Regions from separate parts of the Homo sapiens genome. Here region 1 is linked to region 2. A link means that fine-mapping ties the variant in region 2 to the expression of a gene that starts in the linked region. Tissue or cell type: whole blood. Region 2 holds a variant in brackets; the other region holds the start of a gene. All regions are shown on one strand. Distances are from middle to middle.

Region 1 (10,883 bases), 170 kb before region 2:
ATCAGCACAACTGTTTTGGAAGACTGCTTGCAATGAATATGCAGCAAGGTCCCTAAAATGTTAATAGTATCTGACCTGGTAATAATCGTAATGATAAATGCCATTTACTGTGCATTTACCCACAATCCAGCATATAACCTTAAGCCATATCTCTGCTTAGTTTGCGCCTGTAGAATTCCTGAGATGTATTCTCAACAAGGAACTGGTTGCTTAATCAGCTCTCTACTGAGCACCTACTCTGTAGCTAGGCTGACTAGATAGGTTCATAGTTCCAAGTACAGAGGGGAGGAGGAAGAGGAGGTGAGAGAGCCCTAATGAGGGAAATTGTATTCAAGTACTATTCTAACTTGGATTTGGCAACTTTCCCTTAGTTTTCATCTCTTGAACGATAAGCGGTGCCAATCAGTAGCTATGTGACTTGGAGCAAATTACTTAATCTCTGTAAAAGAGATTACTTGTTACTTGTAAAAGGAGGATAATAGTGCCAGCCTAGGGTTGTTGTGATGAATAAATGAGATAATGCAAGTGAAGAGGTATGGTGCAGGAATTTTGGCTTTAGGAACATATTGAGGTTTGGAAGGAATTCCTAGATAGAGGCTCTGTATCAGAAGCAATCAACCTCACCTTTGCTGTCCAGTACACTAGCCATCAGCCACACATGGCTTTTGAGCACTTGAAATGTGACTAGACTGAATTGAAATGTGCTGTAAGTGTAAATACACACTGGATTATTTTGAAGACTTAGCACAATAGATAGAATGTAAAAATACCCCATTAACAAATTTCACCTGCTTCTTTTTTACTTTTTAAATGTGACTACTGGAAAATTCTAAAGCATACATATGGCTCATATATATTGGATAACATTGGGCTTGACATCAGGGAGGCAAGATTCCCTCTGCCCCCAAGAAATAAAAATTCAGCTCTAGACTGCAAAACCTTCTGCCTGGAGGAAGATTTCTCTTAAAGATTCCCTTGTTCTCTTCCATCCTCATCCCCAACTTAAATCCAGCCTCGACATATGGTGGTAAGGTGATCTTTCTATTACAAGATGAAAATCTGCTCTCACTGTTGTTCTATTTCTTCACACATTTTGAGGTTTCCTCTTTGCCTTTCAGAATAAGGGACACACTCCTTACCAGGGCTGCGTACCAGGCCATTCGTGACCTGGCTGCCACTCCCTGCCCTCAGCTTCATCTCCCACCCAGTTTCTTATGTGTGTTGTATTTCTGATACCGCCGTGTCTTTGAATTTGCTCTTCCCTTTTCTAGAAAGGTCATTCTATTATCTGTGCACACACACCCTAGTCTCCTGCACTACCCCACTGTTCTTTATCTGCCTGATTGTCTTCCAAGACCCAGCTTATCTGTCTCATCCTCTTGGATGTCTTTCCTAAACTTTCATCCTTTAACTAGGAGAAATACTCCTCTCTGTTCCCCATAACACCCTCCATTGGCCTCTTTAAAGGCACCTACACATTTGATTTCTTCCTGGTTTGCCTGCCTTCAATTGACTGTGAGTTTCTTAAAGACAGTAACCTCTTCTTCACCTATAACCCCAGGACCATGACTAATGCCTGGAACACAGTAAACTCTCAATAGACATTTGTCAGGGAATTGGCCAGGGATCATCAGCTCATGGGTGGTGTGGCAATTAGAACTCTTCTGGATGCAAGTGACAGAAACCTCCACTGTGCCAGGCTTTATTGGCCTACAGGATTGAAAAGTCTACATTGCCGGATTCAGCAGTTCAACTAGTGTCACTAAGACACTGTTTTTCTTCATCTCTGTTTACTTCCCGTTGTTCCAGTTCCATTCTAAAGGTTCTTTCTTTGTGGTGACAAGATGGCTGACAGGTATATCCTTCCAGATTCCATTTAAGGGAGACAAATATTCCAGTCAAACAAGACCCTAGTTCCAGCAGAGTAGTCTGGAAGTAGTCACCGTTGCCCGTGGATAGGATACATCAGGAGAGTCAGGTCTGGATTCCACGCTGAGGCCATGGAATTGGGGCTGTGGTAGAGCTGGCTTCACACCAAGCAAGGAGCTGAGAGTGGAAGCTCTCAAAGCATGATCAGGACACTATTTCTATCACAAATGCAATACAATGTCCACTGCTGTGAAGGAACACTGGGATATACTTGTTCCAGTGCTTCTATTATCAAAGTGGACAGGTTAGACAGTGTGAGCTTCAAGAGAAATTTATGCTCTTTTAACTGTGTTAATTTTGTTTTTTCTTTGCTTTGGCATTGCCAGGAACTCTCTGTAAAATGGGATTTATTCTTGTTATATTTTTAGGTATTATATAGAACCTGTGTAAATCAGTTGGGAAGATATATAAGTCAATGGAGAGATAGTTCAGAGATACAAAACCCCACCACTGTTTAGTAAGGCATCTTTCCTGGCTTGCGAACTTACTGAGAGTACATGAGGAAATGATTAAACCTGCAACCTCTTTCTGTGAAATATGGCATACTATGTAGAAATATTTGGTACACCTTGGAAGAACAAGTCTTTAGTATCAGGGACACTCAGTTTGAAGGCTCCTTGTAATAGCTTCTTCTGTACAAGTTCACTAATGTGAAATTCATTGAGTCCATACTGTGAACCAGACACTATTAGAGGGGCAGGAGAGAGGGGGTAAACACAGCATACTTCAAGGAGCTTACATTATAGTGGGAGGAGCCAATAAACACACAAGATAAATAAGGTACTTTCAGATTGAGATAAATGCTATGGAAAAAACTGAGTAATACGCAAGAGAGGGACTAGATTAGAGTGGGTCAATTTAGGGAGGGTGGCCAAGGAAGGTTTCTCTGAGGAGGATCATTTGAGCTGAGGCCTGAATGATGAGACGACATCAGCCATGCAGATAACAATTTAGGAATTCCCAAGGAGGACAGAGGGCTCAACCGTTTGGGGAATTTAGGGTAGACTCCTGCCTTCAAAGTTGGGTTTCAGGCTGGGCATGGTGGTTCATGCCTGTAATCCCAGCACTTTGGGAGGCCGAGGCGGGCAGATCGCCTAAGGTCAGGAGTTCAAGGCCAGCCTGGCCAATATGGTGACACTCTGTCTCTACCAAAAATACAAAAACTAGCTGGGTGTGGTGGTGTGAACCTGTAATCCTAGCTACTTGGGGGGCTGAGGCAGGATAATCGCTTGAACCGGGGAGGCGGAGGTTTCAGTGAGCCGAGATCATGACACTGCATTCCAGCCTGGACAATAGAGTGAGACTCTGTCTTAAAAAAAAAAAAAAAAAAAAAAGTCGGGTTTCAAAATAGCTACGTCAGTAGCACCTGGGAGCTTTTTAGAAATGCGGAATCCCAGATGCCACCCCAGACTTACTGAATCAGAATCCACATTTAACAAACACTCCCAGGTGATTTGTAAGCACAGTAAATTCAAGAAGTGCTAGACTCTTAACTTTTCCTGCAGCCCACTGGAAAGGTGTAAATCCTGCTGAGGCGGGGAGCAGGGAACGGTGTTGTCAGTGTCCGTAGAAAGATGACATGGTAACATTTACTGCTGCCTCTGAAACAAACAAGCTAGGTTCTAAGGGGGAAGTTCACTGGGTTATCAAATGTTAGGGTCCAAGTGATTTTCTTGGTTAGCACTCTTGCTTCACAGAAGACTCAGGTTCTTTGAGAAGTGACCGGCTCATGATAGGCTGCTTCTCTCTCTGTGCCAGCCTTTTTTTTTTTTTTTTTGAGATAGGGTCTGGCTCTGTCACCCAGGCTGGGGTACAGTGGCATGATTTGGCTCACTGCAACCTCTGCCTCCTGGGCTCAAGCAATCCTTCCACCTGAGCCTCCCAAGTAGCTAAGATTTGGGCTACCATGCTTGGCTAATTTTTGTATTTGTTAGTACAGATGGCGTTTCAATTGATGCCCAGGCTGGTCTCGAACTCCTGGGCTCGAGCAATCTGCCCTCCTCAGCCTCCCAAAGTGCTGGGATTACAGGTGTGAGCCACCGCGCCAGGCCTTGTGCCAGTTTTTAAAAATCAACAAGGACAGATTAGAGAACAGTGGAAGAGGGTGAGCAGCATGATGAAGTGATACAGAAATAATTTCACATGAAGAACTGGGCATGTTTGGCCTTTCTTTTCTTTTCTTTTTTTTTTTTTAAAGCCATTCGGTGAGGGTTACTTAAGAAAATAGGGCCGGGTGCGGTGGCTCATGCCTGTAATCCCGGCAATTTGGGAGGCCGAGGTGGGTGGAGCACCTGAGGTCAGGAGTTTGAGACCAGCCTGGCCAACATGGTGAAACACTGTCTCTACTAAAAATAAAAAAATTAGCCGGGTGTGGTGGTGGGTACCTGTAATCCCAGCTACTTGGGAGGCTGAGGCAGGAGAATCGCTTGAACCCTGGAGGTGGAGGTTACAGTGAGCTGAGATTGCACCATTGCACTCCAGCCTGGGCAACAAGAGTGAAACTCTGCCTCAAAAAAAAAAAAAAAAAAAAAAAGAAAAAAGAAAAAAAGAGAAAATATATGTGAGCACCAGAGCTCAACATTAGGAGCATTTCTGAGATTTGGAGCTATTCAACAATGGAAGTTCCTGGCACACACATCAGGTATTCACAATACCCTTTCTCAGGTGTTTGGTCACTGCTAGTGAGCCGCCTGGATCAGTGTTTCCCAAATGGCAGTCATTTGCATCTTTGCTTTTCTTTTGGGGGCGGGGGGGTAATATCCTGTACCAGATTTTTGAAAACTGACATTAAAAATACATGTTTAAAATGTGCAAAGTGCACTAAAGTGCACTGGATGTATTTTTTATTCATGTATATACTTTTGTTATCTATCACCCAGGTCAAAATACAGAACCAGCACCCCAGAGGGTTCCCTCCTCCTCCTTCCCAGCCAATAATCTTCTCCTCCTACCTAACCGCTGTTCTTACTTCAATCACTATCAACTAGTTTTACACGTTCTTCAACTGCATATAAATTGTCTCAGTTTTTTACTTAACACTTTTCTTGAAGTGCTTTCGTTTTTTGCCACTTTTTATTTGACCTAAGAAATAACATTAATGAAACAGTGGTTTGACGTGATAGGCATTTCCCTCCTAATGCGCACTAAAAACACTTAACTATTTGAAAAAAGAAGTTTCTTCGTGTACCAACTAATATATTCTCCGCCCTGTCTCCAGAAACCGCCCTTCCTCTGTGGGCCGGTGGTTACCGGCACCATTGGTACACGGACCACATTTTGTTTCCCAAAGCAACCAGATGATTTTTGAGGTCCTTTGCAGCTCGAACACGGAATGACTTTGTGGTGATCGAGTAGCCAGAAGTTCACGGAATGCACTGTCACAATTGTGATTCCGCCATAGCGCCGTGCATCCATCCAACACTTGTTTAATACCTATATTTAATACCTAATACCTTAGACGGTCCTAGGCTGTGGACACAGAAGACTAAACCCCACTTCCTGAGTTGAAGTGGGGGAAATAGAGGAGTAAATCATTTCACGATGTGTGGTTAAGTGCTGCAGCTCAGGTAACCACCAGTACACAGAGGAAGGGCGGTTTCTGGAGACAGGGCGGAGAGGAGACCGTGGGTGGGCATTTCCCAGAGCAGCCTCTGCCAGCCACCCTACTTTGATCACTTTGCCGCCGAGCAGCAGCGGCGGTCAACCTCAGCCTCCCTTAGCAACCTGAGTGCCCCGTCCAGGAGCCTTACTATTGGTCTCATGCAGCGAGATGGGCAGTTCTGCCGTGCAATCCCAGCTCGCAGTTCTTGCTCCGCGTGTACTCACGGGAGGACTCGCAGGCGTTACCGCCTTCCCGCGTGCCCCGCCCACCCTCCCGAGCGTCTTTCGGCGCATGCGCGGACTGGAGCTGTGTGCAGGGCCAGCGCGGAGCCCGAGCAGCCGCGGTGAAGCGCCTGTGCTCTGCCGAGACTGCCGTGCCCATTGCTCGCCTCGGTCGCCGCCGCTTTAGCCGCCTCCGGGGGAGCGGCCGCCTATTGTCTTTCTCCGCGGCGAAGGTGAAGAGTTGTCCCAGCTCGGCCCGCGGGGGAGCCCCGGGAGCCGCACGGTGAGAGCGCAACTTAGTTGGCGGAGTTGGGGGAAGTTTTGTGATTTGTGGGTCGGGGCGCGGAGCGCGGCCAGTCCCCTGCGGTTGCTCGGTGGGGCGGGCCCCGGAGGAGGGGCGGGGGCTGCGGGGGTTTCGGGGGCGGGCTGGACAGACGGGTCGCCGGGCGGCGCCGGGACCTCAGGTCTGCGGACCCCTCCTCCCTGCGCATCGCCCTTCTCCCGCATTGTCTGCTTGGGGCTCGGCGCGCCTCCCACTCCGCAGCCCAACTTAGAGGCCGTCGCCGCTTTCCGGGTGGGGGGCGCGCCCGGCCGCCGATGCTACCTCAGGCGCTCCGCCCCCAGCGAGGCCCCGAATCCTTGCCCCGGGTCCCCGGGTCGGCGCCGCCGGGGCGGGCTCACTCCTCCCCTGGGGCGGGCGGCCGCGGTGTGGAGTCCCCGCCGTGGAGTCCGCGCCGTGAACAAGTGCTGCGGGCGCGAGGGAGCGGCTCCCCGGGGTCGACGCGGACGGTAAACACGTCGGGCCGCGCCTGCCTGTCGGTGCCTCTCCGCGGCTTCTCGGGGGTGCGGCCCAGCTGACCCGCGCGGGTCGCAGGCGAGCGGCCCAGGAGACCCGTGCGGTCCCCACGCGCTCTGGGACCCGTGCAGCCAGCCGGCTCAGCTTGCAGCTATACTTTGATACCAAACAAAACTTTTTTTTTTTTTTTTGGTAAATACGGTTTACTGCTTTTTTTTTTTTTTTTTTTTTGCAAAGCCACGAAGTATGTGAAGTTGAAAAAAGGAAAAACCCTAAAACTTTTTAAAAAAAAATCAAGAAAGGGGGTAGATAGGTTTGTTTTGTTTTGGAAATAGTTCTTATAGCAGAGTGATACCGTCCCATTTAATTTTCTAGATCCCGGAATTCACAATGAAAATTGGATTGAGCGGTATTTTGGTGTTCATTCTTTGCTAATGACACTCCTTAATGAAGTTATTTGGAGAGTTTATTGCTTCAGTACAGTAAAAACCAGTGTGCCTTTTTTTTTGTTAGTAGTCCCCCCCACAACAAGTGTTTTATTTTTAGAAGAAGCATTTTCTTCAGTTTTTCTGAACTGTTGGATTGCGCAGATGAGGACAAACGGTGCAGTTCTTGAAAGGTCATTATTGGCAAGTTTGTGAAGAAGCTAAGATCAGTTGAGATAAATCATTGTTACTATTCTTGTATTCTGTCGTGGACTCTTGGGGATTTGCAGGCTGCATTAAGTACAAGTTTTGTCAAGTTTGGGTGCACATATTACACTTAATTTGGTTTGTGTGGCTTATTATATGAACATGATTCTGTTTCAGTTCCCCAGATGGAACTAGCTTAAATGTCTGTCATTCATAGTGGAGCAAAATGGCCAGAGTGTCATTTATTGTTAACTTCAGTTGTATTCCTTTACCATCTGCTAAATGAAAAAGAAAAATTTGAGAAATACTGTGTGTGTCAGTTTGCTCAGAGTGATTTCTCGTGCTAAGTGAGTCCTGTGGAGAAGCGTTCCTGGGCTTTTCTGGTTTGGTGGGCCTTGTGTTATAAAACCAATTTTCTTCACCTGATGAAGCTAAAGACAAATTTTCTTCAGGTACAGCCATTGCACTTTTAAATTACAGAGCCGCTTTTAGGATTCACAGTACTCGCTCCATGGCTTCCCTTCCTGGTTGTGTGGTTTTGTGTGTGTGATTGTGGGGAAGGAGGTTGACAGAGGTTGGAAGGGATTGTCAGGGAGGGACATAATGTAAGCAAGTACTACTTACAACATGACGTGACGAGTGCACTAGTTGCTTTCCTTCTCTGGGCGGTGATGGCATGTTATACTGTAGGTACTATTGTTTTAGGATTTCTCACACTTCTTTTGCCTTGACTAAATGGTAACTGCACACATACTATACTATAAATGGACTCCTCCTCTAGTCCTTTAACTCCTTGAGGGCTGTGATAGACCTTATTTAGCTTTTTACCCTCTTTGCCGGTAGTCTTAACATAGTGCAGGCACGGTACGTGTTTGAATTGGGTAAATTATTTTTACTGCCTAGTGGTAGCTAGCGTACACAGGAGAGAGCCACTAACTGGGGACCTGTCCAGAATGACAGTTCACTTGCAGATCTGTGATGACATTTACTTTAAAAGGATTTCTAACCTTTTTTTAATCTGTCAATTATTTTTTGAAAAGAAGTGGGTTTAACTAGCGCTCTAAGGATTTCAACAAGAGGTTCCAATTTAGAAATCAGCCCCCCCCTTTTTGTGAAATTATTATTGTTTTTTTTTAGAGTCGGAATCTTCACTGTTGCCCAGTTGTCTCTAACTCCTGGACCCAAGCCATCCTCCCACCTCAGCCTCCCACAGTGTTGGAATTACAGACGTGAGCCACTCCACCCAGCCAGTGAAATTATTAAAATTGTTGGACAAATCTAGTCACAACTCTCCCTCCATTGTGAAATTGGAAAAAAATTAGAAATTTTAGAAAAAAGTACACCCTTTGGAACTAGGTAGCGTTCAGATCTCCACACTTCCATTGACTAGTTGCATAGCCTCTCAGAGCTTCAGTTTCCTACTCCATAAGCGTTAGTAACAGTGTTCTTAGGAATCAGTGAAACTATGTGAGGTACTTAACTACAGTATCTAACATGGAGTAGGCAGCTATTACCTAGTAGCTGTAATGATAATAATTTTGGTACATTTTTACATGACTTAAGCATTCTTAAAAGTCTGATGCTTCTGAGTGTAGAGGTTTAGCTATTTCTTTCATAAAGAAGGGGCCTTGAGACTTGTGAGTCTTATCGAAGTCTATTTCTTCAAAGGTGCCAGATGAACTGAAGGATAATGGAAACAATAGCGAGTTTATCTTCTCAGTCACCTGTGAGTCTTCCTTTGAGAGTGGGACTTGCAGAGTGGCTTGGTAGGGTAGAGCTCTTTGTGACTATGCTATTTGGGCAACAGTGAGAGATGGATTGTTTTCAGTACATCAGTCATAAGAGGATATGAGTTCCAACTTTATTTTACCTTAGTCTTGGCAAATAAGTGTGGATTGTGTCTGTATTTCTCAAACTTGTTTAAGGTAGAGCTGGACTGGGTGTTAACAGTGTTAGTTCAGTACAGAGACATGAGCAAATCACTCACTTCCTCTTCAAGATAACACTTTAAAGGTGACACCATTTACAGAAGAAGGCAGTGATTTAAATCAGTTATACTAGCATAGTTTAGAATACTTACACTACCTAGATGGAGTAGATACATTCTAGAAATATTTACCTGTTAAGGACATTTCTTTAGATTTTATTCCATCTTTCCATTAGTTTTCTGATGAAGAGATTATAGTAAACCTTTAAAAATTATATTTGATCAAACTTACAGATTGAGGATAAACCTTTAAAAATTACAGTTGGTCACACTTACAGATTGAGGGTAAAAACATTCCTGACAAAGCTAGGCGAAGAAAGTTGGACTTTTGATGTTCCCTTCTTTTAAAGTTAACATCTGGCACTTGAATAGACTTGGTTATTACTGATGGGGACAGGCATCCATTTGGAAGTAGCTTCCCTCTCTCTTTCCCAGGTTAGGCTGTCTTACTGCTGTAAATGGGGAGAGACGAGAAAGCTGTGGGTGGAAGAAAGTTTGTTTCATAGCCTGGCGCAGTGGCTCACGCCTGTAATCCCAGCACTTTGGGAGGCTGAGGCGGGCGGATCACTTGAGGTCAGGAGTTCAAGACCAGCCTGGCCAACATGGTGAAACCACATCTCTACTAAAAATACAAAAACTAGCCCGGCAGGGTGGCAGGTGCCTGTAATCCCAGCTACTTGGGAGGCTGAGGCAGGAGAATCGCTTGAACCCGGGAGGTGGAGGTTGCAATGAGCCGAGATCATGCCACTGTGCTCCAGTCTGGGCGACAGAGCGAGACTCCGTCTGAAAAAAAAAAAAAAAAAGGTTTGTTTCATGCATCTGTCCTCACTGGTCAGTGGAAGAAAGTTTGTTTCCTGCGTTTGTCCTCATATTTATAGTTTTCTCGTCCACCTACAAGTTGATTGTGACGTTATGAATAGAAGATGAATGGATAATGTGTTTTTGTCAGACCTTGCTGTAAGGATGGACCTGGTACTGAAATACCGTGATTGTATGAACATTTGTGTGGGGCAATGCTGTGTTCAGTGCCTGGGGAATGTGGATATCAGTGTGTTTGTATGATATGGGTGCTAGTATGGGAGAGAAGGAAAACGTGTGAGGTTTTTGACCATTTATGTCACTCTGTAAGCTCTTCTCTGGCTACTTTGGTGCTATAGTAGCAGAGTTGAGTAGTTACAACAGAGACCATGTGATCTGCAAAGCAGAAAATATTTACTATCTGGGCTTTTACAGAAGTTTGCTGACCCTTTTTCTACATAACCAACTGCAGTTATTCACAACAAGAAAGATTAACGTTAATTCTATAATATTATTCAATACCTATTCAACTTTCTCTATTTGTCTCCCAAATATCTTTTATAGTTGATTAAGAAAAATTTTGGACAGAGTAAAATTAAAGTTCACTCAGCACATCATTATGTCTCTTTAGTCTCTATTTTTTCATTCTTTAATTATTCATATGTATAGTTTACATTCACTAAAATTCCGCCATTTTAGTGTAACATTCTCTGAGTTTTGACAGGTGTATACATTCATATATCCACTGCTGCAAACAGGACAGTCCCTTCATCCTCCAGAATTCTTCTGAGCCCTTTTGTACTCAACCGGTTCTCTACCCCCAGACTCTGGAAATTGCTGATCTGTTTTCTGTCTCCATGGTTTTTTGCCTTTTCAAGAATGTTGTAAAAATGGAATCACACGGAATGTAGCCTTTTTA
Region 2 (10,883 bases):
GGCCAAAATATCACGTGAGGAAGGGAAGATCGTGGGCAGGATGGAGCTCCACAGGCACAGGCTAGTGCTGTCCTCCACAGGTGGAATGGAATCCCTTCTCTCCAGGGGAAATCTAAGACCTGCTTTCAGAGCCTTCCAGTTGATGCAGTGGGATTATCCTGCCCACATAATCCAGGATAACCTCCCTTATTAGATCAACTGGTTAGGGGCTTTAATTACATCTGCGGCAAAGCTATTATTATGACGACAAGGATGGAAGGGGAGTGAGTTGGCAAAAATGATGCAGCCATCCACAATCCTAAAGCACAGTTAATTCACACTGGGGACAAAGGACTCAGTTGACACTGTAGGAAAGGCCATTAGTGATCTAAAAAAATGAAGTTGAGTAACTCAGATTACAGAGGAGTACTGATGCAGAGAAAAGGGAACAGAGATTGATCCTAAATGATTGAGCTCTGCAGTTTAAACACAAAAGGAAGAAAGCAGTGATGGAAGCTTTCATGCTCTTAAAACAACACAGACTAAAGGAAACTAAATTCATATATTCGTTTATCCCTTTGCACCTTGGCCTCTTCTACAAACCTAATTCACATGACCCCTGAATCAAATAAAAATGTGTGAGAAATTAATGGGAGAATACCTAAAACTGGGGGTATATGCATGCGGTGGACTACTCAGCAGTAAAAGAGAATGTACTACTGCTACATGCAGCAATGTAGATGAATCTCAAACATGCTCATCGAAGAAGCCTTACACAAGAGTGTATATTCTATAATTTCATCTATATGGAGTTGTAGAACAGGCAAAACTAATGTAGGTGAAAAATTCAGAACAATGGTTAACTCTGAATGAGGAGGAGAGGATTAACTGGAAAGTGGCACAAAAGAACTTTTTTGGATATTGGTAATTTTCTATATGTTGGTACAGATTTGGGTTCACGTGTATATGCATTTGTCAAAATTTATCAAATGGGTATACTATACCATATGTATTTCATTGTATATAAATCACCTAAAATTGTAACTACATATTGAATGCTAGTTAATTATATGCATGCTGAAGTATTTTGGGGTGAAGTGGACTGATATCTTCAAGTTATTTTGAAATGCATAAAAATAAGGTGGATCGATGGGGAAATAGAAGGAAGAATCGTTGGATATATATGTGATAAGGCAAATATAGAAAAACATTAATTGTAGGATCTAGGTTGTTGAGTGAGTGTCTGGCTATTTGCTGTGTGATTCTTTGAACTATGTGTATGTTGGAAAAGTTAATAAAATGTTGGAAGAAAACATAAAAAGGTGCTTTTTAAACCACATTAGTTTAGCTTGCTTGTATGATTGCTTGTTTTTGTATTTGTGGTTTTATTTCCTAGCAAAAAGAAACAGGGTGGAGTAATGGAAAAGGTTTTTTGTTTGTTTGTTTGTTTAATGCAAGACAGAAGAACTTTTGATTTTAAATCCTGATCTGACTGTGGGCAAGCTATTAATTCTATGAATCTGCCTTCATTTGCACAATGAAGATAACCAGACCTCATAGGGTTACTGAGAAGATAGAATGGAAAAAGTTGACATAAACTGCCTAGCCCAGTGCATGGTGCATAGCACTACATTGTTTTCTCCTAATCTGTTATCCTCAGAAAGGGTCTACACAAAAGCAGATGTGGTACCAGTTGCTAAGACTTTCAGAAATTGAGAGAGGATGTAGTGCAGAAGTCAGGGCATCAGCTTCTGAGCAGGCGTGTGGCTGTAGTATTGGGATTTCTACTGAAATGCTGAGCTGACTCAGAACAAATAACAAATCAGAAGAGTGGTTGTGGGAGGGTGGTAAAGAGACAGCTGCTTCAAGGTTGGAAATAACTAGCCTCTAAAGAATCAGGTATTTCCTAGTTAGTGCCTCATTAGCTCTTTGTTCTTGATAAGGATGTCAGAACAACTGTAAGGCAAAAGTTAGATGGTGCTATTTGATCTTTTGTGAGGATTCTATTTGTCCTTTTGTCTGGCCTTGCCATCTGCGCAGAGGTGTTGATTATTAAAATTTGTACCTGCACATGTAGTTGTTGCTTCTGGGGCATAATCTTTCCAGCCATGTGCCTCTGGTTAAACACCCTTTAAATCCTGAATTGGTCTATGCATATACAGTTCTGTAGGGAAAATATACAATATGAAAAATTGTGCTTCCAAGGAAATTTACCTTGGAAATAGGGATACCAGACTAATACACAGATGACATTTGGAAACAGTGTAATTCAGTGTAAAATCACAGCTTCAAAAATCTGTTCATTCCTTTGTGATATTCACGTATAGAAGCATTTGAGGACTTCACAGTAAGGAGAAAACCACTGGGGTCCAAAAAGTCCGAGTGCTTAGTGAAGAAGTTTAGACCCGTGGGAGGCCATGAAGAAAGAGATGATAGCTAAGCTGAGGCAGGCACAACTTCAGGGTGCCATTCCCAGCTCCCTGGAGTTAAGTGTAGTACAGCCTTGTGGGGCTATATGTGGCATCCCTGCAAAGACCTCAGCTCCTGTCATCCTAGGTTGGGCACTGAGGACTGCTGAAGGAAGAGAGTATTGCTAGTGAACCTTGAATGTAATTTGATGTCCAAGAGGACAGTGAAGAGAGCCGGGAAACAGAGAGGAACTGGGATTTAATGAATGTCTACTACAGCCAGTCATAATACTAGCATTTCATCTACCTCTTCTCATTTGTTACACCTCTGTGAGTGAGGTGTTGGTATCTCACTTTAGGGATGAAGAAAGTGAAGTTCAGAGATGTTACATGAATCACGCTTGGTCACACAGATGGTAAATGCCAGATTCGAACCCTGATTTGTCTAACTACAAGCCCTTCCTCATTCTGTCACTTTCAGAGTGACTCACTTTACTAAGAGGGAGCCTTTATTTCAAGTTAAATAAACGTTTTCCTTTCTGCAGTTATTAGTGGATTGTCTTAGAGTTAGTCTTCCTTATTGTGCCAGGAGATGCATTTCTTCCTCTCATTAAACAAATAAATAAAGCTGGCAGTGCCAGAAATTTGATTTGCCCTTATTGTGTAGGAATAAAAAGACCCATGTGTACTGAACAAGCAGAACCTGTTTTTAGTGTTTAACTAGCCAACTCCTGTCTGGGTGTTCTTTTAAAAAGTAATTATACCATTTATGATACACCCATTTAAGTCCCAACAGCTATTCCCTCTTGGACCTCATGTTGTGGGGCTGCATTTGCTTCTGTTATTATTATTTGAGTAAAAGAACGTGTGTATGGGTCGCCTTTATATGCCTGCCTGTGAAATTGGTTGAACAAACACTGTGTATTAAGTCAGAATATAGAAATGTCCTGATTCTCTTTTGCAGGACTGTGTTCGATTGAAGATTTTGCTTCCTATACTTTCTATGCTTTTGTAGCTTTGTTTTGCCTTTACTTGAGGGCTGATTCTACCTGGCCACAATAAAGCTGTTCACACTGTATGTTGTAGCTTAACTTTACAATCTTAGGCACTTGGAGGCAGTGGTGTTTACATAACTTGTCTTTATGTTTGTTTGTTTTTTGTTTTTATATTTTCCTCACTTACGTTCATTTTCTCCCCCATTTACAGATGCTGGCCCGCGAGAGACATTGATGCATTTTGCTGTGCGGCTGGGACTGCTGAGGTTGACGTGGTTCCTGTTGCAGAAGCCAGGTGGCCGCGGAGCTCTCAGTATCCACAACCAGGAAGGGGCGACGCCTGTGAGCTTGGCCTTGGAGCGAGGCTATCACAAGCTGCACCAGCTTCTAACCGAGTAAGTGCTCCTTCTGCCTTATTTCCCTCCTCTCATCCCCAGCCCCACCCCCGATTCATAGGAGTACCACCCACTTGGCATCTCATTGTGTGTTTGCCGCAAATTAAAACCTCAGCTCTGTATCTTGCCTTCTGCTGGAGGTTTGTAAGCTTGCTCCTGCTAACCACTTCATTGTCTGAGAGAGAAACGTAAGTCGTGTTAACCATTTTCTCTCTCGTCTGCCTGCCTGCCTTCTTCAATTCTTATCTCTTATATTTTACTATTTTACTCAAAAGTCAGAATGAGCCTTGTCTGTGGAGGTAGCATAACATTACCAATGTATACAGTTTATCCTGGTTTAGTACAAGAGGAAACAGATTTCCTATATCATATATTTTTTTCTGGTATGTCTTTAAGACTTGAAAGAGTTAATTAGAAACCAGTACTTCCATATTATAATTGCATACAGAAAATATTGTAAACAATTAAGTTTTGGATTGAATGTAATTTCTGTGAATAAAATTTGAGAGCAGTGGTTTCTTCATATGAACAGCAATAAAAAGCAACTGAATTGTCCTGGAAATGTGCAGTAGGAAATCCTGTCTGTTTTTGGGCTCAATTATTATATGTCCTGACTCTTTAAAGAGTTCTCTAGAGGAAGGTTGTTAGTCAAAACATTTGAAGAGCGCTCTTTTATTCTTGTATAAATAAAGAAATAAACACACTAGAGCAGCCAAAAGTTTTTATTGGAATGTTTATATAAAGAAGTTTCAAGAATAGTTTCTGTTGTTTAATACATTTTTATTAGTTTTGTGGTTATCATCATTATCTTTTCCACCACATTATCTGAACAAGTATAAACCCATTGGATCTATGTTCTTTAGCAATTGAGGGACCTGTGCAAATTGAGTCAGTATTAGCAAATTCTCAGATATTTTGCTCATGCCAGATTTAATTTAGTTGTGCTTTATGTTTTACCATTTTTAACTGTGTATATAGTCTGGAAGGACCAAAAAGAGACCTCAGAATGTAGTGCTACTTACGGTTATGTAAACAGCTTTTTCTTGATTCACTTGCCAGGCTTATACCTTTCCCCATCACGCTAGACAGACAGTTCTTTGCAGAAAGCTTTCTGATGGGTGCTACAGATACAGTGGTGGTAGGAGGGGCACTTATCTCAAATGAGCTTTGGATACCTGAGCTCTCCTAAGACAGTATTCCAGGGAGTGATACATTCTACTCCTTCACACTTCCCATCTGGCCAATGATTGGATTCATTCTACGGTTAGCCTCATGGCCTCAGGAAGAGAGGCCTTGTTTCAGAAGTTGAAACAGTTAACTCTGCATAACTATTGTGAAGTTCAAATGCATTTCCTCTAAATTTGATTTTTGCTGGGAAGCAGAGTTGGTTAAGGACTGCCATCCAAATGGGGAAATAAAGTGATTACAACAGCTTCATTATATCCTTGGAGGGGATGTCACAAGACTGTTATTGCAGCACAGCTTTAAGGAAACTAGAGTGTGTTTGTTCTTTGACTTTTTTTTGCTTACTTTAAAAGTACTACTTCTGTTACATGTGGGAAAGCCACTTACCTCCTTTTGAAGGGAGATTGGTAAGGGAAAACCAACCTGAGAAATCACCAATAGAGGACCCTGATAGGAGAGGATGAGCACCTTGCTGCAGATCTAGCTCTTAACTTGAATTCTGGGATGTTACTGTTGTGAAGCTTAGAAAAAGTTCTGAGTCATAATTAGCGATTAAAAAATGGAAAGGGGGCGATTGTCCCAAATCACTCAGTGTGAGAGTGATTCTAGTAGAATTTGGTAGAATTTCAGTTGTTAAAGAATCAAGAATGATCATTTTGTTATTGGTTTTCTTTTCTCCTTTCCTTCCCCTTTCTTTTCCTATATACATAACGTAAAAATGGTTAAAATAGTAAATTTTAGGGACAGCATTCAGTAGCATTCAGTACCATCACAACACTCACAGAGTTACGTAACCATCACCACT[A/G]TTATTTCCAGAACTTTGTCATCACCCAAACTGAACTTCCTTTTCTCCAGCCCCTGATAACCTCTGTTCTCCTTTCTGTCTCTAAGAATTTGCCCATTCTAGGTACCTCATATAAGTGAAATCATGCAACATTTGTCTTTCTGTGTCTGTCTTTTACATAGCTAATGTCCTCAAGGTTCACCCATGTTGTAACGTGTCAGAAAAACAATACGTACTTCAAAATTGCTAAAAAAGAATGTATTTCTCACCACAAAAAAATAAGTAGCTGAGATGATGGATATGTTACTTAGGTTGATTTTATCTTTCTATGGTATATACATAGATTAAAACATCACACTGTACCCCATAAATAAATTTATATAATTGTTGTTACCAAACACACACACACACACACACACACACACACACACACACAGCCAAAAGTGTAAACAACCTAGATGTCCATCACAGATAAATGGACAATGTGGTATATTCATATAACGGAATACTACAGCCTTAAAAAGAAAAGATCATCTTTAACAGATGAAACTGAGATCCAGAGAGACAAAGTGGTTGGATGAAGATAACAAGGTGGTATGACCAGAAATAGAAGCCAAAAGCTGTCCAGAGCTCTTTCCTTCCACTCCTGGGATTCTTAAAAAGTGGCCCAAGAATAGACTTCATGGGGTCTGTATCTCTTGAAATTATAAAGGTTTATGCACATGTTTTTCTGAATAAAGCATTTGTTGGTGAGATTCACGAAGGGGTTTGTAGAAAGTTAAGAATCGCCACAATGTATGATGCTATCTTTCTTTTTTTTTTTTTTTTCTTTTCTTTGAGATGGAGTCTTGCTCTGTAGCCCAGGCTGGAGTGCAGTGGCACGATCTTGTCTCACTGCAGCCTCTGCCTCCCAGGCTCAAGCAATTCTTCTGCCTCAGCCTCCTGAGTAGCTGGGATTACAGGCATGCGCCACCATGTCCGGCTAATTTTTGTATTTTTAGTAGAGACGGGGTTTCACCATGTTGGTCAGGCTGGTCTCGAACTTCTGACCTCGTGATCCACCCACCTCGGCCTCCCAAAGTGCTGGGATTACAGGCGTGAGCCACCGCGCCCAGCCATGATGCTATCTTTCTAATAGTTTGGGTATCTTCTTCCCCACCCTGCTTTTTAAAAATGAAATTGTCCACATATAAGCCGGCCTCTTTTATTGCCTCTTTTCAGTTAGTATGAAATTGAAGTATGGCTATGTATATTTTACATTTATTGAATAACTAGTTGCATTCTACACTTTACTGAAAAGTCAAGCTTATTTAACCCCATTTATAGCCCTTCCCAAGTACATTTGTTGTTTTAATTCCTTGGTGCTTTACCTTGTTTTTTGCTTTTTAATTTTTAAGTGGGGTGTGGGGAGCCTTGTGCTGGTTAGGGCCCAAGTTCTTTTTGTGTTTCTTTGTTCAAGGCTTATTTTGATTGCCAGTCTATTTTGATAAAGCAAGTCTTACTTCTGCGAAAATTATGATTAGCCATTCTTGGACATATAAGGATTCTCTAAGACCTATCCCTTTAGAAAACACTTGAACTTTATTTTAAATCCTACCAGATAGTAATAACTACTCAGGACATTTTTTTTACAGTTTCCCTTTTTTGTAACCCATGATTGTTAACTTTCACTTTGTTCAGTGTTAGGGAAGGCAGAGCTTTTGTTGACTTGCTGTTTCACTTTAGCTTATATTTAGATCTTACATTATGAATATGAATGCATTTGTGATCTGAAAATTCATCTTAAATACATTGTATTTAAGTTTCACTCTAAGTAAATGAAAGAATTCATGTAGGGAGCATAACTCAGTGATTGACATATATGTTATCTCTTATTTCCCTTTCTTTAATTTTCTGTCTTGCCTGAGAAATCTTAGCCCCAGAAGAGTACCCAAAACATGTAGGCCTACTTTTCCTTTAGTTGGACAATCATCTCCTCTGATTTGAAGACCCCACCCATGGTCACCTAACTAGTTAGTAATGGAGAGAATAGGTAAAGACCCCAGTTTGCAGGCTCTTGGTGTCATGAATGCTAGGAAGTGACAATATCAGATGAGCGTGGCATTGTAGTTATCTAAGAAGAAAATATTAGAGCCAGATGTTATTGGATCTGGCTGATCTCTTACTCACACATCTCAAAGTAGAAATCTTGGGACTTGGATCACCCATGTTGGGGGTATGAGGGAGCTTGAGAGTAAGAGGAGGCTCCAGCTAGTGACTAGGTGTGCAAACTTGGAAGTCAAACCTAGGTTTGCATTTTGGCTCTGCCATTTGCAAACTTTCCTTGCTAAGCCTTGATTTCTTCATCTCATAAATAAAGGATATTGCTATTTACTTCCTGGATGATAACCCAGCCTTTAGTGTATGCAATATGAAAAATTAGGGCTTATTTGTCATACAGATTCTGGTTATTTTTGTGGAGCAAATAAAGGTGCATAAATATTTCTTCTTGGAGAAAGATGGTAGTATAGTATGGTAGAACTGCTTACGGATTAAAAGCTTAATAAAAATCTAAGCTTGCCTACTTAGTAGTTAGTGTGACTTGGAAAATGTCACCTATCCACTGAGTCTCATGTTTCCCCTCTCTTAATGATAATACCTGTTCTGCCTACATCACAAGGTTATTTTAACTAAAAAAAGATTGGTGCAAATACTTTGTTAAACTCTAAGATACTCTATTTGAACATTTCTTATATATTAATAATAATAATGACATCAGTAAAATTAGAGTTAACTGATCAATGAAACTCAAATTCCAGTTGATCGGTCTACCAGATATCTTGTTTTGTAATATTTCTTGTAGTTCTCTGTGAATTAAAGTTAGTAGAGAGATTGGAGAATTGTAGTTAGACTGGCTGGTTTTGAATCCAGGGTCTACTTCTGTGAAACTGTATTATTTATCTTGGGTGATTCACTTAACCTCTCCAAACCTCAGTGCCTTTTTTTTTTTTTTTTTTGGTCTCACAAGAAGAAGAAGAGGACTGTCTTCAATGGGTTGCTTTGAGAAATAAACAATTCATGTAGAGAGCATAACTCAGTGATTGACATAAATGTTACCCCCATTTCCCTTTCTTTAATTTTCTTTTCCTTCTAATGCCTATGTCAGTTTTTCATACTTCAGGGAAATTTTACCAGAATCTTGAAGTATTTTAAGCATCATTTGAATGTCCCTACTTGATGTAGGACTTGATGTAGGGACTTGATGTAGGTTGGAAATTATTCCCTAGTGTAATAGATACTACTTTAAATAAAATTAGTTTGGCCCTTTGATACATGCTGTGATGTTGATGCCTGTAGATTAATGGAACAAGGAATTCTAGATGGATAAAAAATCATTTACAGTCCTTCCACCCTTATAAGAAGAGTATTTATTTTAAGAATTTCAACTCTGGAGTGGTGGCATACAAGTGCTGAAATATTTCAGTTGCCATAAGAGCCAGTTTAAACATATTTGTCCTCATAAATGTCATCTTATTTTTAGTATCAGCTGAACAAATCTTCATTTATTGAATGCCTATACTGCACTAGAAACCATGGTTGGTACATTACAGATATTGTTTCATTTCAACCTTATATCAACCTCGTGAAATAGGCATTATCTGTGTTTTGCGGGAGAAATATGGAGGCTCAGATAATTAAAGTAACTAGTCCAAGGCTATATAGAAAATTGTAGAGCTACTGTTACACAGACAGCTGTGGAATGCCAAGGCCCATATTCTTCCCTCTACAAAAATTTGGCAGAGAGAAAGAAGAGACTCAGGACGAGGCTACTAGGGTACAGTATTAAATGACTCTTAAATGTAAAGGGTTATATGGTTTCTAGTCTATATGTTTTTTGAGGAAAACAAGGTTCTTACTATAATAACTGTACATTTATATTACCCATTATATGACTTTTAAAGTATGGTTGATTACATTTAAGCTACCATTTTACATATGGTAAGTATTGTCATCTCTGATTGATTGATTGATTGAGACAGACTATTGCTGTCACCCAGGCTGGAGTGCAGTGGCATGATTCCGGCTCACTGCAGCCTCCACCTCCCAGGTTCAAGTGATTCTCCTGCCTTAGCCTCCCGAGTATCTGGGATTACAGGTGCACGCCACCACGCCCGGCTTATTTTTGAATTTTTAGTAGAGACGGGGTTTCACCGTGTCGGTCAGGCTGGTCTCGATTTCGTGACCTCGTGATCCGCCTGCCTTGGCCTCCCAAAGTGCTGGGATTACAGACGTGAGCCACTGCACCTGGCCATCTCTGTTTTATAATTGAGGAAACTGAGGCCAGAGAGGTAAAGTGACTTGCCCAAGGTCTCGGTTCACAAGGTTGCAAAGTAACAGAACCTAAAGTGCACCGATCTGTCCAGATTGAGGGGACACATGTGAATGTTGAACACAGACCCAGCCTGACAAGCTCTAGGTACTCAGTCATGATTTACTGTAGTGGGCACTATTGGCCCCTCTCAAAGGGTTTGTGCCTGTAAGCTCTCAAGTCCTTCTTACAAGACACTTGCGCTTGAAACCTAGGTGTAGGGTTAGGTGGTGGAGTGACTACTCAAGAATACATATTTCACAATGGAACCAAGTGCTATTGAGCAAGATGTTCTGCCAACATAGTAATTTTGCCCTTTTAGATTCCTCTTCAGGTACTTGACAAGTGGGTCCTCAGTAGCCCATCTGGTGCAAAACAAGTTTGGAGACTTTGCTTTTGCATAGTAAAGCAAAAGATGAAACAAATGTACAGACATACCTTAAAAATAATAACCAGAGAGGCAGGATTTGGGATAACTTGACATCTGGCCAAATTCCCATTCATCAGTCTGTCCATCCCTTTGTATCTGACTTCCTTTGTCATTGTGTGATCTAGGTCTTTGTGTCTTGGTAAAGATAAGGTTGTAGAACTGAGTGGAAACTAGAGAATGGGGGAGGAGACTAACATTTATTGAATATTGAATACCTGCTTTGTATTATGCACAGTACTACCTTGGTGCTTTACTTGCGTTTTCATTTAAAACCCCTCAGCAAACCTCGGGGAGGCTAAAGCAGCTTGTCCAAGGCCGTATAGTTAGTCGCTCTTTTCACAACCTGTCTTTAGGTTGTA

What was found. PIP is the estimated chance that this variant, and not a neighbour inherited with it, causes the effect.
Region 1: it holds the start of AKAP13, and the variant in region 2 is fine-mapped to the expression of AKAP13 in whole blood (TOPMed, PIP above 0.99).

What each region holds. Positions count from the first base shown.
Region 1 is chr15:85,374,765-85,385,647 of GRCh38, forward strand. AKAP13 (A-kinase anchoring protein 13) reads left to right here and starts at 5,839. Exons shown (of 37, transcript NM_007200.5): 1 at 5,839-6,034. MIR7706 (microRNA 7706) reads left to right here and starts at 5,832; the gene lies at 5,832-5,898. LOC124903546 (a long non-coding RNA gene) reads right to left here and starts at 9,633. Exons shown (of 3, transcript XR_007064747.1): 1 at 9,443-9,633; 2 at 9,299-9,346; 3 at 8,912-8,971. RefSeq lists silencers at 5,690-5,769, 6,150-6,719, 6,376-6,543.
Region 2 is chr15:85,540,179-85,551,061 of GRCh38, forward strand. It overlaps AKAP13 (A-kinase anchoring protein 13), which reads left to right. Exons shown (of 37, transcript NM_007200.5): 5 at 3,594-3,777. Among named protein-coding and RNA genes, the nearest start is that of AKAP13, 170 kb to the left of the region's middle. The variant A/G (reference allele first, on the strand shown) is at 5,768.